Linked DNA regions of Homo sapiens: region 2 is linked to region 1. The links come from fine-mapping of genetic effects on gene expression. A gene starts in region 1. The other region holds a variant in brackets. All regions are shown on one strand. Distances are from middle to middle.

The links. PIP is the estimated chance that this variant, and not a neighbour inherited with it, causes the effect.
Region 2: its variant is fine-mapped to the expression of NMD3 in whole blood (INTERVAL, PIP 0.91).

Annotation. Positions count from the first base shown.
Region 1 is chr3:161,218,284-161,230,138 of GRCh38, reverse strand. It overlaps NMD3 (NMD3 ribosome export adaptor), which reads right to left and starts at 8,828. Exons shown (of 16, transcript NM_015938.5): 1 at 8,730-8,828; 2 at 8,082-8,145; 3 at 5,075-5,209; 4 at 2,796-2,892. The coding sequence starts at 8,125. It also overlaps the pseudogene SRP14P5. RefSeq lists a silencer at 8,466-8,665 and enhancers at 8,585-9,086, 9,146-9,255.
Region 2 is chr3:161,338,858-161,348,785 of GRCh38, reverse strand. SPTSSB (serine palmitoyltransferase small subunit B) reads left to right here. Exons shown (of 3, transcript NM_001040100.2): 3 at 2,431-3,988. The coding sequence starts at 2,463. The coding sequence ends at 2,693. Among named protein-coding and RNA genes, the nearest start is that of SPTSSB, 28 kb to the left of the region's middle. The variant T/C (reference allele first, on the strand shown) is at 3,850.

The sequences.
Region 1 (11,855 bases):
CAATAAAGCAAGACCTTATCTCCAAAAAATAAAATAACATAAAAAGACAAGTGTCCCTTCCCCAACTTCCCCTTCAACCACTGCCCCATTTCTTTGTTTTCGTTTACAGCAAATCTCAAAAGAACTGTCTATCTTCCTTCTCCCATTTTAATTTCTATTTAAATGACATCTTTACCACCACCACTAAACAGAAATTGCCCATGTTATTAAGGTCGTCCACATTACTAAATCTACAGAACTCATTACTTGACTCATCAGCTGCAAATCACATAGCTACTCACTCCTTTCTTCTTAAAACACTTCCCTTTCCTCCCAGGACATCACACTCACCCTGTTTTCCTCCTACCTCCTAGCAGCTCCTTTCAGTCTCCTTTGCTGATTCCTCCTCATTACCCAATTATTTCTTCATCATTACCCATTAAAGGAATGATTCCAGGATTCAGTCCTCCAGTTTCTTTCCTTCTCTATGTAAACTCCTGAAATAATCTAATCCAATTCATGACCTTAAATACTATCTATATCCTAAATTCATTATCTCTAGACTGGACCACTCATTGGCTTATTTATCAACCTGCCTACTCAGTATTTCTACTTAAGTGTCTAGTAGACATCTAAATACCAGTTACAGATGAACTCTCATGCCCCCTACCCAGTGACTTGGCTGCTCAGGTCACGAACAGTGGAAGGCATCCTTAACTCTTCTGTCTCTTACAAAAACACATCCAGCTACATCAGTAAATGTTACTACCTTAAAAATAGATCCAAAATCTGTCCACTTCTTACCACCTCCATTGCTGATCCAAAACCATTTCTCATGATTATTACAAAAACTTAAACACCTTTACCTCCCTTACAACCATTCTAAAAACAGCAGCCAGAGGAATACTAATAAGTCATGTCATCTCACTACTCTGCCCTTCACCCTCTATACTCCTTACACTCAGAGTAAGAAACAGCCCCTATAAGGGCCTACAAGGCCAGACACACTGTGGCCTTCCATGACTTTTCTGGACTCTATCCCCAACTACTTTTCCCCTCACCACTCCGTTCTATTCACACAAGTATGCTCTTGCTTTTGGTCTCTACATTTGTTTTCTTTACCCCTAATGCTCTTCCTCCACATTTCTGCACAGCTTCCTCCCTTACTGTAATCTTTAGTGTTTACTCAAATGTCACCCTATCAGTGAGCCCTCCCCTAAACACCCTTACTTTAAATTTCAACTCTTCCATGCACAGTTCTTATCCTCTTCCTAGCTCCTTTCTCCACAGAATATACCTTTTAATATACCATGTAATATATCCACCTATTTTGATCGCTGCATACTAACATGCTGCTCCACACTGGCATGTTAGTGTGCAATTAGAATACACGCTTTCTAAGACAGGGATTGCCTTATTCACTGCCATATCCCCAACACCAAAAGCAGTTTGGCACAGAGTTGGTACTTAATAAACATCTGATGAATTAATTAATGAACTGTTAAGACTCACTAGACATTTGACAAAAACCCCAAGTATAAAAGCAAAAAACCAAGACACACAAAAAACTGACTTCATAAAAAAACAGAGACAAATGAGGGAACAGAAAGAAACAAAAAAAGTCCTATTATCAAAATCTTCAGAAAAACTTAAAAAAAATGCATCAAGAACATGAAAGACTCTGGAACTTAAAAACATTACTACTGGAAAAAAACAATTCATTAGAAAGATTAGAAGATAAAGTAAAAATCACCAAGAACAGAGGGGAGCGAAAAAAACCAAAAAGGTTTTTTAAAATATGAAGGGAAAAAGACAAAGTTTTATGCCAGAAGCGCCAAAAAGTGACCATCAGAAATTTGTGGGGTTGGCTGGGACCTAGTAGGAAAATAAAGGCAGAAATTTCAAAGAACTATTACATGAAATTTTATTAGAGCTTAAAGGAGAATCAGAAAAGTCTTCAATCTGAAAGAGTCAATTTCAATTAAAAACATGGTAGAAGTGAGTCATAAAGCTTAAAATAAAGAAAACTCATAGTGTCAATCACTTTCAATTTTATATCAGGAAATAAACTGTACTTTAAACAAACTATTTTTTTTAATACATTTATGCACTGACTTTCAGTGACAGGCACAAATATTTTATTTCCAGATCAATAATGACAATAAAAAGAAACCAAATAACATAGCCCTAATATTATAATCCCAATTATGTTTAGTGATGGTTTTACATAAAAATTTCCGTTAAAAAATTATACATGAGATTCTCGATAAATAACAAAGGAAAAAAATTAAATTCTGTCTTTTTAAAGCAAAAAGATATTTTTACTTTTCATAAAAAGAATATATATAACTTTAAAAAGTGTTTGTAGTGGGGTGCTACTGGCAACAATAGTAACATTTAATAGTTACTTTCGAGGCCAGCATGGTGGCTCACGCCTGTAATCCCAGCACTTTGGGAGGCCGAGGCAGGCAGATCACGAGGTCAGGAGTTCGAGACCAATCTGGCCAACATAGTGAAACCCTGTCTCTACTAAAAATACAAAAAATTAGCCAGATGTGGTGGTGTGCGCCTATAATCCCAGCTACTTGGGAGGCTGAGGCAGGAGAATCGTGTGAACCCGGGAGGCAGAGGTTGCAGTGAGCCGAGATCACACCATTGTACTCTAGCCTAGCCCAGGTGACAGTTCAAGACCCCACCTCAAAAAAAAAAAAAAAAAAAAAAATTCCTTTTGAAAAACCTACTCACAAGAATTTTCTGAAAATGAGACCTTTAATGAAAACATACCTATGAATACTGATTTTAGCTGTTTAACTTACCTTACTCAGAGGGGCTTTGATTTTTTTCAAGCACAAAGCAAGAAGTTCCCTGGATTCTAAAGCACACTGTATCCAAGTTCCTGGTGGTTGAAAATACCTAAAAGAGAAGATAACATACTGAAATCCAACATCTGTCAGGAAACACAGAAATTTCCATCTGAATACACAGATATAACCCAAATTATTAACCAGGCATAATAAAACCCAAGGATGATATGAAGCACTTAACTCAAACATATTTTAATGGTTCCAAAACTTTCAACTAGACTAGCAGCTTTAATTAAAAAGGTAAAATTCTGACTGAGAAAGTCAATCTGAAATAACCTACTAAAGTGATCTTATTACTTTAATCACCAAATCACCACTAAAATGTCCAAGAGTCTCTTAAAGCTATGCTCTGAAAAACAGGTGAGAATCATCTCAAAATGGCATTAAAATGGTTTATTATGTACTTCTAAAATGCCTGAGAACTGCTTATTTTTCACAAAAAAAAGGTACATTAGTACCTCACAACACTATAAATCAGCAATAGTTCAGTCTATTCATCTACATTTCAAGTCCTTTTCAAATTGTAAATTGTAAAACAACATTTAAAATCTTGGGTAAAACCAGACTAAAACAAAACTTAAATCTCTTACATATGTGCTTTAAGGTTTTTAGTCCTGCCTACCCAGGACTTAGCACTATGCCACATACATCTTATAGTAGGTGTTCAATAAATGCTTGCTAAATATAAAATACTTCCAAACATGTTATGTGAATGTCTTTTTGCCATACTTGTTACATAACAGAAAGTTTTGACTTTCACTTTTCAAGGTTCAATCAAAAACATTACACAGGTCTCCCTTTGTTTATAAGTACATATTTATTTCGTATTTTTTTTTCCTTTTTTCTTTTGAGACAGAGTCTCGCTCCATCCCCCAGGATGGAGTGCAGTGTATGATCTCGGCTCACTGCAACCTCTGCCTCTCGGGTTCAAGCGATTCTCCTGCCTCTCGAGTAGCTAGGATTACATGCGTGCCCCACCACGCCTGGCTAATTTTTGTATTTTTAGTAGAGACAGGGTTTCACCATGTTGGCCAGTCTGGTCTCGAACTCCTGACCTCAGGTGATCCACCCGCCTCAGCCTCCTCAAGTGCTTGGATTACAGGCGTGAGCCACCAAGCCTGGCCTATGAGTAAACGTTTAGAGTTAGAAAGGGCTTCACATATCACCTAATAAAACCCTTCATTCTGATGAGGAAATTGAGGCCCAGAGATGATAAACAGCTAAGAGTTTCAAACAGCTAGTTTGTGAGGAAGCCAAGACAAACTAAGTCTGTTTAGTTCTTTATCAGTACTTTTCTAACTCCACCAGGCTTTTAATAGCAAATATTTATAAAAGATTAAGCCTCACACTTGCTAAGCTTATACACTGTAAACTCCCTGAAACAGTACACAGTTTCATGTGTTTGTGTATATATATGTATATATACACACACACACATATATATTTTTACATATATACACACACACACACATATATATACATGTATGTAAATATTTTGGGGAAGAGATACAGTTTTCAAATTCTCAAAGGAGTCCATGAACCACCCCTCTAGAGATACACACTCAAAAAGTTAGCGTCTTAATCCATTTTGGAAATAACAGGCATACACTTTTACACTCATTAGGCAGTTTTGTGTTACTCAATGGCCTAATAGATGTAAGTTGTTTATGCTGACAAAGAAAATCAAGAGGAATGAAACATTAACATTCAGAAGAAGTCTTCTTCCTTCAAATCCAATCTTTATTTCAGACCATTCCAGATATAATTTATTGAGCTTCTTTTCCATCAACAATAGTTATTTTAATTACACGTGAATGTTATGAGTTTTTAAAACATATTACTAAATTACTCCAAACATAAGCTTTTTATCATACATGGCTTCTAATAACTAAAGAAAAAAAAACCTCATAATAACAATATGTCCTCAATAATCTGCTCTCACCCTTACAAACATCAACTCCTATTAACTATATACATCAAATCTATTAGATCCTTTAACAGAAGAACAGATTCAAATACATTTACACTATCTTTACCAGATTAGAAGGACACACTAGAAAAGTACACTATAAAATTGCAAATTCTAAAATCTTTGGCGACACCAACAGAAAATTTAAACCTTAATTGCATGCACTTTACTCCATATACCTTCGTGTAATCTCAGCATATCTCGGTGGTTCTCTAAATGTAAATTCCAACTTTAAAAAGAGCAAAATTGTACCGCACTGTACCTTTGACATTGTTTGCAGAACGAAATCGAGACTTGTTTCGGAATACCTTGGCTGATGTCCACTTTACTTCGCAAACAGGCCACACAAATATTGGCAGGATTTGGACTTATCGGAACACCACACTCACAGCACAAGCTTTAATAAATAAAGGATAAATTTTTCACATTAGATTTTTAAAATACACTAAATTTTTTTTTAGATGCCAAACAAACAAAAGCCTTCAAGTTAGGCCACAGCATCTTTGCCCTTTTCAAAAAAATAACAGAAACAAAGCAACCTGGGCCAGCCAGTGGCTCACACCTGTAATTCCAGCACTTTGGGAGGCTGAGGCGGGTAGATCACCTGAGATAAGGAGTTCAAGACCAGCCTCGCCAACATGGTGAAACCCCATCTCTACTAAAAATACAAAAATTAGCCAGGCATGGTGGCGCACGCCTGTAATCCCAGCTACTTGGGAGGCTGAGGCATGCATATCAAACCCAGGAGGTGGAAGTTGCAGTGAGCCAGATCACGCCACTGCACTCCAGCCTGGGTGACAGACCAAGACAATGTCTCAAAAAAAAGAAACAAAAAAAAGAAACAAAGCAATCTTCAAAGATGCAGTAGATAAAGAATAACCCTGTAATACAGGGGCAAAAACACCAAAAATGGCTATAATTCTAAAAATCCTCAATATAAGGCCGATGTCCTAAAGGTTCTAGAAGGTCAGTACTGTCCAACAGAATTTCATGCCACGACAGAAATGTTCTATTCTGGTCTGTACAACAAGGTAGCCACTAGCCACATGTGGCAACTGGGACATGAAAAGTGACTAGTACAACTGAGAAACTCAATTTATTTTTTTAATTCAAATTTACATTTAAATAGCCAGTATGGGTCTAAACAAGTCTTTTTTATTAAAAGCAAATGAAACTATATTGTCACATTAAAACAAATGGAGGTATATTGATGAAGAATACAAATCTTGCACTAATTTTAATTTTAGATACTGAAATATAATTAAAAATGTTAACGTGCTCTTTACCACACCCAACCAACACTATCCATAAAGATAACATTTATTAATAATTTGTATATATCCTTCCAAACATTTTCTATGCAGACACAAACATTCACATTAACTTTTACAAATAAACAGATAAACTTCCCAACCACAAGTGTAATAGCAAACTTGGGAAAAATTTGAGAAGCACTGTTATTCATTATCCCTTGTTGAAAATTGGAAAACCAAGAAAGAATCAATTAACAAGGCAATAGTGTGTCAATGGCAAAAACCAAAAAGAAAATCCTGTATCAAGAATATGTAAGATCAGTTTGTCTCTTTTTAATTCAACCACCTCATCTCTAAATACTAAGTCTTCAAAAATCTATTTATTCAGGGCATACAGAGGACCATAGCTTAGGTGAACAGTATGGTGTCACTACATTAAAAGACTACAGCTGTCTACTTATCTCTAATGAACATTTCTTCAAGTATATCTCTGGACTACACCAATAGAAACTAATATCTAAATCATTTCTAACAGAATCAGACGCCAATATACTCCAAAGGCAATTAAAAAAAAAAAGCATAAGGACTGCTGAAATATAAACATTTACCCATAGCAGAATTTTTTTTTTAACAGTATAGGAAGTCTATCAACATCTAGAGACTCAGTATAAATGACGGAACTATCATAATTCGAGATGTACTGGGGGCAGAAAAAGTCTGAGAACCCCTAATGTAGAACAACATTGTCCAAAATAAAAGTTCAATAATCTTCCATGTCCAATGGTAGCCACTAGCCACATGTGGCAACATGGCTAGTACAAACGAGCAACCAAGTATTTAATTTTATTCCATTTAAATTAATTTAGGAAACTTCCAACTTAAACTGCTTGGGGTTTATGTTGACAGAGTGGAGCCAGCGGTACCACCTGGAAAGAAAGCAGTTCCTGACAGAGCTAACCAGGCTCTTCCAGAAGTGCTGGTTGTCCGGAGGGAAGTATAATGGTCAAACAACCCATTCCAAGAAAGGGTTCTGTGAAGGGCTTTGAGCCCTTAGACAAGTGTCTGTTAAAAGCTACTGATAGAACAAGGAAGATCAGCACTATGCTGAGCTCCAAAGACATTTTCAGATGGCTTATTCAAACCCACTGAGCTAACTGATGGACAAGGGAAGAGTAAAGCATCACAGGGAAGGGGGCCAAATTTCCTGCTTTCACTAACCACTGAATTCCTATTTTTCCTTTGGTTTTTACTTTTGGCCACAAAGCTAGTTTCTCCATAGTTACTGTTTTCCTGTGAGATTAGGGTCATTCTAGACAGAAGGACTACAATGTTTACAGGGTAGTTGTGGTAAGAAGCCAATTTATTTTAGATTTAGCTAATTGGTCTGTGCTGAACGATTCCAGGATTATCGTTTAAAAGTCTCTGTAGTAATCTCTTTGAAGAGCACTGTATCATTAAACCTATTTAACAGCAAAAAAAAAAAAGTTAATTTGAACTTAAATGCAAGAAATTAAAAATTGATAACTAAGATTTAAGATGTTCAAAATTTAAAAATTACTACATTATAATCTCCAATAAAAATCAGGAAGTCATCCGAGCTACTCGGGAGGCTGAGGCAGGGAATTGCTTGAACCCGGGAGGTGGAGGTTGCAGTGAGCCGAGATCACACTACTGCACTCCAGCCTGGGCAACAGAGCGAGATTCCGTCTCAAAAAAAAAAAGTAAGTAAAAAGTAAATTTAAATAGCCACACGTAGCTAATGGCTACATATTGGACAGTGCCGATCTAAAAGGATGTATGGTAAATATTTTAACCCTCTTAGAGCTTATATTTACTAGAACAAGCTTTATAACCAGAAACTAATTCGATTTTCTACAGAAATAAGACTTCTATTTTTTCCCATTTATGACAATATACGCTCTTTCCCACCCACCCTCAAGCGTTCTCCATAGTGAGTTTCCCGGGCTCACTGAAGATTTTCACATTTAAGGGGGAAGGAAGAAGTGTCGCACTCACATGTGTCCAGGGCTGCGGTCGGTGGATTCTGCCATATACTCCATCGTTCTGTATGCCTTAAGTTCTTTTAAAAAAAAAAAAAAAAAAAAAAAAAAAAAAGAGAATGTTGGGATTTAAATCACTTTACCTAGTCTCCTCTTTTTACGTCTTCCTCCAGTCTCTCTGAATAATTAATATATTCACAGAACTTCGAAAAAGCAGGAAAGAAGGAAACCCAACTCCACTGGGTAAGTTCGTTAAAAAGAACTTTAAGATGAGGACCATGGGATTTCCTGAGCTTCCCAGCTGCAAGACCCTCGGGCCACCCAGCTCTGCCGCTGACCTCCATCTCACCTGGGCTCCAACCCTGGACGACCAAGGGCGAGGTCAGCTCGGGATTGTGGACGCCCGGGCCCTCCCGCTCTCCACCAGCCCAGGGACCGCACCGGACCACCGCGCCTCAGACCCACGCCACAGGAGTCTCCGGACGGCGTCCCGGCGCCCGAGGGCCACCCACGCCGACCCCCAACCCCGGGGCGCGACCGCACACGGGTTCCGGGCACGCGGCGCTCACGCAGACTGAGCACGGCCCCGAGGCCGGGGAGCCCGCCCCATCCGCTACTCAGGGGCCCGCGGCCGACAGCCCAGGTCTCGGACTCCGGAACCTACTTCGCGCCTCCAGACCAGCCCTGGATTTGCTGAAAACCCGCAACAAAATAGACCCCGGCTGTCCCGTCAGCTGCCAACCTGGCTGTCTCCGCCACAGAGAAGATCTCGCGAGCGAAATGCTCGAAATCCCGCGGCCCGAGTGACGTATTAAAAGGGACGGGGTGGGGACGAGGAAAGGGGCGGCACCGACGGGCGGAAGGGTGATGGGAGCGGCCTGGTGGCTGGGAAAGCTCGCGGAGAGAAGTCCCAGGGGCTCATTTGCCGTCAGTGACTGCTTTTCAGTTATCGTCTCGATTTTCCCAGGCCAGGGTTTACTCCAAACCAACCTCGCCCGTATATTAGTCTCTTTTCAGCTATCCCGACTGTGAGCTTGCTTCTTGATTAAATGATTATTTTATATAAAAGTTATCTGTAAACGGTACCTTATGCAAAGAAACTCCATCCAGGGCAGTGCCTTTTGTCTGTTTGGTTCACCGTCATATACAGGCCTGATGCCTGCCACATGCTAACTGCTCAAATGATTATTTGTTGAAAGAATGAAATGTAAAGCATAATTATCTGTGAAGAAGTCTATGCGATTTTTAGACAAATTATTAATTATGTGCTTCCGGATAGTGCATTTAATATCTTCTTATGACTGATTTATCCCTCAAACTTGGAGCAGCACAGACCGTGTCTAATCTGTCTCATGACAGCCTTTCAAATATTTGAAGAGTACAACCATTTTTTTTTCTAAATCCTCTCATCCCAAATTTCAAGGAATAAGCAAAGGCGTTTTGTAGAGGGTGATCAGAGACAGCCTCTCATCATTTCTTGCCCAGAATACTTAAGTAGCCTCTCGTCTGTTGTCTCTACTTGTAGACTTCAATTCATCCTTCTGAAATGCAGTTCTGATTTTGTCACACTCCCCTGCTTTTAATCCTTCAGTGGCCTCTGATTACCTTCAGCATTATTTCCAGTTTCTTTGTGTGGAAAGAAGACCTTTCAGGATCTGATCTCCACATATCCTGTCCTACTCCCAAGCACACGTACTCGCAAGCCATGAAGACCAACTGGCAGGTCCTCACAGAAAATAGTCTTCCTTTGCTTCTACCCGGGACTCGGCACTAAAGATTAAGCCTGAATTAGTTTCCTAGTGCTGCTCTAACAAATTATCACTGATTTAGTTGGCTTAGAAAACACAAATTTGTTCTCTTCCAGTTCTGGAAGCTACAGGTCTAAATAGATGGTGAGGGCTGACTCTGGAGGCTCCAGGAGAAAATCCATTCCCTGGCCCTTTCCAACTTCTACACGCTGCCCACATTCCTTGGCTTGTGGTCCCACATCATTTTGCAGTCAGAGTCTCCTTTTCTCACCCCCACCCCCCCGCACCCCTCTTACAAGGACACTTGTGATTTCACTGGGCCCAACCAAATAATCCAGAATAATCTCTCCATCTCAAGAAATTTAATCACATCTGTAAAGTTCGTTTGCCATGTTAGGTAATATATTCACAGATTTCAGGGAATAGGACATCTTTGCAGAGCCATTATCCTGTCCACCATACATCCTCTCTTTTCTGACTCCTTCGGTCCCTAAGGGCCAGAGGAGTTACATGCTCCTTCTGTATATATGGTTCTATGATAACACCTTTATACGAGGTATATGCCTCTATAATAGTGCTTTGAATTGGATCATAAATTTTCTACTCTGCATGCCCAGCAGTTTCAAAACCCTGGAGAGCAATTCGGGTCTTGTTCTTCTTGGTGCACCTAGCACAGCAGCTGACACAAAACAGACCCTCAATATATATTGGTAAATTAATTATCCATTTAATACCCACCACAACTCTGAAGAGACAGTGTTTTTCTCCCCGTTTTTTCTATTCACACTGCCTATGCCCTCAACCAAACACCACTAGGAACACAGCTGTAGTTAAGCAGCTTCTGTCTATTTATTACTCTTCGAAGTGAGCCCAGACACTCACCATGGATACCCTTTGGGTATCTCAGTAAGAGGGTGTTTAGAACAAACCTATCATAGGATTGGGGCTTTGGGCGGGTGTTTTCGGGGAGGCCCTAAGAAAATAGAGGTTTTTCTATAGATTGGATGCTGTCAGAAAGCAGGGGCAATTCTGTGATTGGATGTCTCAGTAAATCTTATTTACACAAAGGGAAGCAGGAGGATAAAGCTGCAATTAGCAAAGAAGTAGCAGTCACTCATTTTGGTGAAGAAAGGGAATGTTTGGTATTTTGTGGGTGGCATAGTGAACTTATTTTGGTCTGTGCTTAGACAAAATTATGAAGTGACCTTCTTTGCCTCATTTTATCATGGTTTCAGAGTAATCTTGTCTGAGTTTAGTATTCTGTGAAATTATTTCTGTCTAATAGGAAAATATTATGGCATAGCTGCAAGTACCAGACCAGCTTCTAAATGTCAAAGGCTGCTCATTTTTTAACACATTCCTTCTACAATTATTTGATTTGGCTCTGAATACCAGGCTTCTTAAGCACTTGATGTATGATAATAACAGCACAGATATGGTCCCTGCCCTCATGGACCTTACATATTACAGATGAGGCTGGATTAGATTAGGCAATTTGTTGAAAGTCCTATAGCAAATAATTGATAGAACTGGGACGTGAAATACAGTTTGTTTCTGAACCCAGACCCTCACCATAGCAGCCTACCTCCCCTTCTGAGGCTGAGGCCGTCTATTCCTATCCACAACCTTTTGATAAATGAAATACTTCTGTAGTAGAAGGCACCTATATTTCTCTCTTCATCTGCCAGCCCCCACCACTAAGATTTCCAGATGTCAAAAGTAAGTTCTTGATTTCAACTACCTCTCTCATGAGCCTGAATGAGCTTGCTAGGATTGGACTGAGTGGGATAATATTGGCAAACAATACCAGAGGGAAACTCACTTTGCACTTTTTATTTAACCTCAAATCTCACCTGAAAATAATAGGTGAGATTATTTTCAGCTCCCATAGTCCTTGCACTGAGGATATCTATCTGTATTCAAATCTAAGCCTTAGTATATGTTTACAAACTTCATTTCTATGTGTTTAACCATGGTATTAAAATGGAATTCCTGGCCGAACATAATGGCTCATGCCTGTAATCCCAACACTTTGGATGGCC
Region 2 (9,928 bases), 120 kb before region 1:
ACAATCAGTGTTTTCAAGAGACACTTTTCACATGTCAGTTCTGGCTACTTAGAGGGCTGAGATTGTGGTAACTGGCAAAAAAAAAATTTTTTTAATCTTAACTGCTTAAATGGTTAGCAGTGCAGAAGTATATTTAAAACAGCCAGATTTAAAGTCATTGCAGATTTGGGGTATTTGTGATCAAGATCTTACCATGTATCCACTGTTGGTGCTATACATGTTGGTGTGCTTTTTATCTGCTGTTTCTTTTATTCATTGATTGATTGTTTGACTTTTAGCGGTTTTAAACAATAGACATTAATTATCTTGAAGTTTCTATGGCTCAGGAATCTGGATACAGATTAGCTGGATGCCTCTGGCTCAGGGTCTTTCTCAAGGCCATCATTAAGGTGTTGGCTAGGGCTGCCCAAGCAAGGAATTCTAATTTTAATAGAGAAAGCAATAGCCGGGAAATTAATCAATGCATTTTTTTTAATTTAGAGTGTTTTGTTTTGTTTTGTTTTGTTTTGTTTTGTTTTGTTTTGTTTTGTTTTGCCAGGATCTCACTATGTTGCTCAGGCTGGACTTGAAGTCCTAGACCAAAGGGATCCTTCCCCCTTGGCCTCAGCCTCTCTAGTACCTGAGACTATTGTCCTGCCCCACCATGCCTTAGCATTTTTCCATGTCCTTTCCTCCCACTTAGTGCTCATTCCTGGGCCCTCGATCACTGCATGTTTGTTACATGGTCCAGTTTGCTGCTTCCTGGAAGAGCATCTCCTGACTGTGATGCCTTTGAGAATAAAGTCTTTCCGAAGCCATTAATATTCAGAAGGAGCCACATGGTAATACTTAAAATGTATTCATTCGGTGAATGAATGAATTCTCCTAACCACATTACTCATCACTTAATTAGTGCAGTTTGTTTGTTTTTTGAGACAGAATTTTTGCCCAGGCTGGAGTGCAATGGCAAGATCTCGACTCACTGCAGCCTCTGCCTCCCAGGTCTCCCAGGTTCAAGTGATTCTCCTGCCTCAGCCTCCCCAGCGGCTGGGATTACAGGTGCCCACCACCATGCCCAGCTAATTTTTTGTATTTTTAGTACAGACAGGGTTTCACCATGTTGGCCAGGCGGGTCTCAAACTCCAGGCCCCAGATGATCCGCCTGCCTTGGCCTCCCAAAGTTTTGGGATTACAGGCGTGAGCCACCGAGCCCGACAATTAGTGCATTTGTAAAAGCCACAACAAGTTCGGGTACAGTGGCTTATGCCTGTCATCCCAGCACTTTGAGAGGCTGAGGCGGGCAGATCACCTGTGGTCAGGAGTTCAAGACCAGCCTGGCCAACATGGTGAAACCCCATCTCTACTAAAAATGCAAAAAAAAATTAGCCGGGCATGGTGGTGCATGCCTGTAATCCCAACTACTCAGGAGACTGAGGCAGGAGAATCTCTTGAACCTGGGAGGTGGAAGTTGTAGTGAGCGAAGATTGTGCCACTATATTCTAGCCTAAGCAGCAGAGTGAGACTCTCTCAAAAACAAATAAATAAATAAATAGCCACAACATATAGAGAAAAGTTAATAATATTTCTAAATAAGCAATATTATCTCATTTGTAAAAATGAAGAGTATTTAAGAATATTTTAAACAGGTTCTCAGTATACTGTTGATTCTGAAACAGTAATGCCCTAGGGAAGAGTAGAGGTACAGATTTTCTGAAATACTTGGGCTCCAAAGTCATTTCAACTTGACTCCAGAATGCAGCATTACCACATGAACTTAAAGCCTCCTCCTCTCAAACCCACCACAGCATTGCCCTAACTCAGAGGTTGAAGATAAAACAGTTAACTTATCCAACTAGGCCCTACAGCTTCTGGCCTCACTGTGGCCATTCCCACCTCTTCAGTGTCATCACACTCCCTGCTCCCTTCTCCCTCCGTGGCCCCTCAAAAGCAACCTACTTCTTCCCACCTCCAACCTTTGTACATATTGTTCCCTCTGTCTTGGCTGTTCTCCCTACTTCACTGTCTATTCTATCCATTTGACTCATAATGATCCCTTGGACCTTATCTCAAAAGTCTCTTCCTCAGAGCTGTGCTTAGGTTCACTTTTATTTCTCTTTGTATACATGGCTCAGGAAAATGAGGCTAACCTCAATTTTTAGGTACCATTATCACTAAAGTTATTTCTAACAATTGTCATGTTTAGATAGATGTTACTGTTACTAATAGTATTATTGCTGCCAATTTTAGTAGTGATTATTAGTAGTGGTGACAATATTATTAATTTTTATAGTTAATATAGTATGTATTATTTTACAGAATATTCATATATTAATAATATATTCAATGATCTTTAACAAATCTTTGAAAGATTTTAACATGCTGAGATCATGAAATTTTAAAGTGATTCTATGTTTGGTTCCTCATCCTCTAATCTGTTACATTCTTTAACAGGACAAACTTACTGCAGCTTGAAGGAGCCAACCATGGATTTGAGGCGTGTGAAGGAATATTTCTCCTGGCTCTACTATCAATACCAAATCATTAGCTGCTGTGCTGTTTTAGAGCCCTGGGAGCGATCTATGTTTAACACCATCTTACTAACCATTATTGCTATGGTGGTATACACTGCCTATGTCTTTATTCCAATCCACATTCGCCTGGCTTGGGAATTTTTCTCAAAAATATGTGGATATCACAGTACAATTTCTAATTGATCCTGTTCACATTCAGTGAAATGGCATTGCATATTTATATGTTGCTTACAGCTTATTGATTTAGGTAACTATTGTGTCTTCCTTCACTATCTGACCTGAAAAGCACTCTCTTCTCTATGCACTCTTATATTCTGCCTTTCTGCCTGGAGTTTGAAATACATGTCTCTTTAGTTTCTTTTGCACATGCTACATTGTGCTTTAGACCGGAGATAATACAGTGACTTTACCTCACAAATCATATTCTGTCAACACAAATCTATGAATTTAGTTTATTTAAAATCAGAACAATTTCCTACAAAATTTTTCTGGAAAATAGACTCCTAACAGACCTACCAGAATCATGCTTAAAGTGCTCCCTTGACACTTATTCTATACTAAAGGATAAATTTTAAAAAATCTTTATAGGCTACTGTCAGAAGTATCCTATCCTTGTTTACGATGTATAAAAAGATGTGAATAAATTATATGGACCCCCTAAGTCTTATTTTCTAGTAAACTGATGATACTGGAAATTCTTTTACTTCAAATGCAAAAGAATAAGCTGGAGGCAATTATTTCCTTTCATACAGAGTTCATGAATTGTTTTAAATGCTTCTTAAAGTCTGGCTTTATAACCGTTTAAAATCAACAATGTTGATTTTAGATAACCAAGTAAGTATTATAATACAAAATAATTTTAAGTGTAAGAAACTAAAGTATAATCAAAGTAAATTCAGTTATTGTATTTGTGGTGTTGCCTTGCCTTGCATGATGCTGGGGGAAAAAGAGAAAAGAAATGGTTTTCTTTTTGTACTTTCATTCAGTGTAGAGGGAAAAAAGCATGTATTGGGCCACCGGAAGACAAGCTAATAAATAGGCTGGAAGTAATATTCTACCAGCAGGAACTCAACAGCTCCAGTTAAATGCTTTGATATAGTGGCTCCTTTGCAGAGCCAAAACAAGATTTATTAAATTTCCTTCAAACTGTTTATCTTTAAAACAAATATAAGGTTTTAATTATACTGCTGAAGCAAATGTGAATGCCAAAGACTACGTTTTGCAGTTTTGCTTTCCTCCCAATAAATATTAATGTATGTAATTCTAGAGGGTAAAAATGTAAATAGGTTTGGACAATATTTGCACCCTTGTTTGTGTTATGAAAAAAATTTTTCCAAGG[T/C]GAGCTAGAGAGAAAGATGTTTGGCATGCCAAATTAACTTGCATGTTTGTTAAAAAAACAAACACATGTTTTGAAGAGAAACCAGATCTGAACATGTATTTGTTGAGTTTTGCAAAATAAAATTAATTTTGTAAGTAAATATCTACTTCCAGATTTACTTTTTATTCATATTGCACTAAATATCTAGATGTTACATTGCATATTTCTCCCCAGCTTATCATTTTTTAGTAATCCAATGTGGTAACTGGTGTTAAAACGGTAACAAAAACCTAACATTTATCAAGGGACTTCTCCATGCTGGACACATTTTCCATGTTGGAGTAGGTATAAAGGTCTCCTACTTACAGGTAAAGAGCCTGGAACTTGAAAAAGTTACATTTCTTGTTCAAGGTCGATTAGCTACTAGTAGCTACTAGTAGCATAGCAAGGATGCAAATCCAGGTCAGGACCACACCGGGCCCTGCAAATATTTTGCACACGAAAGCCCAGGGGAGGACAAAATGAACAGATGAAAGTTGATGGGATGAGTGTCACCAACGTTTGAAAGTAGAACTCCATCAAATAGAAGGAAGAGCGTTAGGAGACAGCCAAGGTTGGAGGAATGATAAGCTGAGGTCCCAGCTGTCACCTTTGCTGCTGTACCTAGGATGCTGTGTTCACCCATTTCTATGCTTCCAAGGCCCACATGACTATTTTGAAAGATTGCTTTCACTTCTAAATATTTAAAGAGAATTCTCAGTTAAGCATGAACTTGGATGCATTCCCAGTTCATAATGATTCAACACCCTTATATACATGGACCCCTGCTAAGTACTCCTGGAATTCAATCACAAAGATACTGCATTGACCTTCTCAAAAAATCCTCCATCTAAAAATAAGAGAGTTAAAATAAACATGAATAGACACAGCAAAGCTTAATAAAAGATTATTGCAAAGCACCACCCCAGGATGTCACTTCGAAGGTGTTTCTTCTGAGCAGTCAAAATAATAAATACAGGGTCCAAAAAACATAATCAAAAATAGTTTGGGAAAAAAAACCTATCAATCAGCATGTAGTGGGAAAGAAGAGTAAGCATTACTTTCCCTGCCTGCTAAGTTTATTTTCTAGACATGGAGAGAGACATTCTTTACCTTGACCCCAGTTTGCCTAGATTAGAAACACTTTTTGTGTGTTTTTCCTTTGCTTCCATTACTTGGATATTTCAATGATGTGTACAGAACTTTAAAAACAAGAAAGGCCAAAGGTTCCATGGCTCCGGTGAGCTTGCATTTGTCACTCACCGAACGAGAAATTGTAAAATGTTCTTTCCCTGGTATTGGCCAAGTCAACAGTTACTTTTATCTGCTTGTGCAACAAAAAACACAAAATGTCAAGATATCAGGCAGTTTAAATATCAAGATAGGACTAACCAATCTTCATTAAGTTGTTTGTGGAAAAAAAACACTCATCCACATTTCCTATTTTTTTCTTCTTCCATCACAAATATATTTAGATCCTCTTACTGGGGTGATTCTAGAAGGCAGATTTGTCCTTATTTCTGAATCTCCTGATACAGGGCTTAGCAAATTCCCACCCACGAGGACATTATATAGCTCCTTCTACCTTGTGACCACACAAAAACAAAGAAGCTCAGTGTCTGTATTAGGCCAACCAAAAGATGGACAGCTCCTGACTATGGACTAAAAGAGTAACACTTATTCATTCATTCAATAAATTTATTAAAAGTCAACCATGTATTGATGGGTAGATACAAGGATGGAAAAATGAAAAAATATGTGATGAGGAAAACATAACAATAGAAACTAGATGCTAGGTATACAGGCATTAATTGTCAAATTCTGTTAACATTATGTTTGAAACTTTTAAAAAAATACATAGGGAATAAAAGCCTACCATGTGCTAGTCTTTGGGCTTGGTACTAGAAAATGAAAATGAATGAGACAGAAGCAGAAACATCTCTGGAGTTATTAATGATAGTATCTGGTAGGCAAGATAACGACAACAACAACAAAAATACAAGCAAGCAAAATATTTATGAATTGTGATAAAGTTTAAAAAGAAAACACTAGTGTGCTAGAGAGACAGCGACAGGTGGTTGGGGATGATGAAGTCCTTGGGGCAAAGGGAACATAGCTCTTCCAGCTGCAGTAGAGCAGGATTCAAACGTCTCTAATTGAGGGACACTAAGCAGGGGGGTGATGTGCAAGGAATGTGATGTCATTTATACTGTAAGATGATGGCACTGGCTATGGTGTAAGAGTGGATGGGACAGAGGCATGATTTACCACCATAACCTGTTTTGGGCCATGATCCAAGTCCTCCATTCTTTCTGTAAACTCAAGATGGCATATAAGCATCTGTACCCCCATTGGGGTGTTGGGGTAATCATTCTATCATTCTTCTCCATGCACATTAATAAATTTGTGTGCCATTTCTCCTATTAATCTCCCTTTTGTCAGTTGATTTTTCAGTGAACCTTCAGAGGGCAAAGCGGACATTTTCCCTTGGCTCTTACACTATCAAAATGTAACCCCCTGAAACCCTGCTTATCTCTCGCACCTTACCATGCAAATGCAATACCTTCCTCCCAGTCCTGAGTTATATTTACCTGAGCCAGAGAAAGTACCTGGCTCCAAAGAGGGAAAAAGGGAAGTCCACCACCCACATGTGCATATTCTGTACCTTTCAGGTGTTGGTTGCCTCAGAATTGTGCAGGTGTTCCTTCTGAAGAGCACAAAGAACACAGCACATTGTTTTTTGCACCATGTACTCTTATAAAAGCTCACTAAACGAATGGATTGATGAACAAATCAAGCCCTTTTACAACTCCAGAGTAGAGACATTGAGTCATATTCCAGACATGATTTGTCACTAGCATTTTTATGAAGTCACTCACCTAAGGTGAGTTTTTAAACATCTGGTGAAGGTTTTGAGAGACATTTGTCCCTCTCCTGTATTCTCTTTACCCATTATTCCTTCTCTCCTGCTCCTATATTCTCACAACAATCCCCATGTGAGCATTTTTTAAAAAGGGAGGACATTTTTTTAAAAGTTCATTGATGCATCTGTAAAGATCTACAACTGTTTTCTCCTCAAGTACTAGACCATTGGTTCTCAGCTCTGGCTGTACATTAGAATCGTCTGGGAGCTTTAAAAACTACCAATGCCTGGCCCTGACTAAATTTTCAAACTAAATTGAAACCCTCAGAAGGGAGTGCCCAAATAGTAGTTTTTAAAATTCCCCAGATAATTCTAATATTTGGCCAAGATTGGGAACCACTTTAACAGTCTTTTAGTGAATGCTGATTAAATCACTAAAATCCAGCATCAAGCTGCGTACTCCTCTTACTCCCTCCCACTTGCCAGGCTTGCCGAACATGTCTATATATGATTAAGGCACTGCTCTTTCTCTAGATACAGTCTTGATCATAACAAACAGCGCTTCCTTACTGTTTTTCAGTAAAAGTACTCAACACTCCCATAGAAGCTTGAAGTGCTTAATAGTTAGCATCACACTCCCCAGTGCATTTTGTTCCACATAATGATGTCTTCAATCATTTCATCATGCATCATTTAAGAGCAGTAAAATATCACAAATTATGCTTATGGGCATGAAGCTCTAAAGGACACTCAGTCTGCTGCTGAGGAGCTTGGTGGAGCGCTTTCATTTGCAACCTGAGTACAAGATCGTGTCACAATAATTTGGTTAAGCCAGATAGATAGTACCATCAGCACTACTGCAGAGCATGCAAAGCTTTATGCATTTCACAATAATATCACAATAGGGCACCTCATGGATCAATGAATGTACCTTGCTTCCTTTTGTTTTTAATTACTTGCAGTTATATGTATTCAATGTGATATATCTATACACACATACATAATTTAATATATACATACATATATACATACACATATATATTTGTGTATACGTATATATGCTTCCACCATCTAAGCCTGTACCAATATAATTGGTGGCAGAACTTTTTTTTAACAAACTTATTTGGACCCAGACCTGGCTCCAGCACTGGTGTGGGTTTTTTTTGTTGCTGTTTGTTTGTTTGTTTAAGATTTAGGGGGTACATATGCAGGTTGGTTACACAGACATAAGGATATAATGAATAGATTGCATAATGTGCTTTTTGTGCTTGTATTGAACCCAAACAGTGAACGTAGTACCCAAAAGGTAGTTTTACAACTCTTGCCCCCCTCCCTCCTTCTCTTCTTTTGAAGTCTCCTGTGTCTATTTTTTCTCTCTTTATGTCTGTGTATACCCCTTGTTTAGCTCCCACAGATAAGTGAGAACATGTAATATTTGATTTTCTGTTCCTGCATTAATTCATTTAGGATAATGGCCTCCAGCTACATTCATGTTACTGCAAAGGACATAATTTCATTACTTTTTACGGCTTCGTAGTTTTCCATGGTGCATAGGTACCACATCTTCTTTATCCAGTCCACCATTGATGGGTATCTAGGTTGATTCTATAACTTTGCCATTGTGAATGGTGCTGCAATAAATACATGAGTGCATGTGTCTTTTTGGTAGAATGATTCATTTTCCTTCGGGTACATACCCAGTAATGGGATTGCTGGATCAAATGGCAGTTCTATTTTTAGGTCTTTGAGAATACTCCAATCTATTCCACAGAGACTGAACTCATTTACATTCCCACCAACAATGTGTAAACATTCTCTTTTCTCCTTATCCTGACCAACATCTGTCATTTTTTGAGTTTTTAATAATAGCCATTCCAATTGGTGTGAGATGGTATCTCACTGTGGTTTTAATCTGCATTTCTCTGATGATTAGTGATGATGAGCATTTTTTCATATTTTTGTTGGTCACTTGTAGGTCTTCTTTTGAGAAATGTCTGTTCATGTCATTTGCCCCCTTGTTAATGGGTTTTTTTTTTCTTGTTGAGTTGTTTAAGTTCCTTAGAGATTCTACATATTAGACTTTTGTCAGATGAATAGTTTGCAAATATTTGTGGCAGAAAATTTTAGTTAGAAACTGAGATAAACAAGTGATATGGACGATGGAAAGATAATCACCCCTCAGAGGGTAGAGTGACCCCAGTTCTTCTTGCTCTGGCTGCCTGTGTGTGGCCTTGGACAAGTGACTTCACTTCTCTGGGATCCAGTTTCTCTGCTGTGAAAAGAATGACTCCTCTGGGAATAGTGTGTGTGTTTTTCTCTTATCGGCTCTTGTGATCACTGGCAGGGCCACCCTAGAAGGTCATGTTGTGAAGAACTTTGAAGCTATACCTGCTCGTTGGAAAGAATGCCATTATGAACATATCAGTGTCTATCATGAGATCAGTAGAAGGGAAGTGGACTCTAAGTTCTGCTGGGTCAAAAACTGTAGAATTACTTTCCTAACCCAGTGCAGTGGCTGGAAACCTGTAGACATAAAATGAAAACACCTACTTACAACACTGTAACTGCTAATCTTTACAGCCACATAGAAATGTGTACACACATACTGGCAGCTTGTCTCTATATACTCAGATACACTTATTCTTCAACTTCAGTTCAAATTCTACCTCTTCTATTAGGCCAACTACATGCCATAACAATAAATAGCTAATATTTATACGGCACGTATACTATGCATCAGGTGCTCTTCTAAGCATTTTGCATATGTAATTCATTTAACTCTCTCAACAATCCTGTTAAATAGATATCATTATCCTCATTCTACAGATGGGGAAAGCTGAGGCACAGATTGTTTAAGTGACTTGCTCAAGGTTACACAGTTAGTAAGGGAGCTGAGATTTGAACTGAGGCTGCAGAGGTGAAGTGTTTAACCATTGGAAGGAATGGCACCTTCTACATGTCCACATAAACCATCACTATACCACACCTTTTTCTGCATTCTATCATTCACTGATTCTGTGTGATTATAGGACATCAATCAATGTGGTAAGCACTTTGAGATTTAGACAGAGCATTATATAGGATGACCGTAGATCCTGGTTTGCCTACCTAGTGCTTTTGGATGGGGATGAGGAAATTCAGAGAATTCTTCCTACATGAAGCGATGCCTGAGTTACATCTTAGAGGATGAACAGCAAT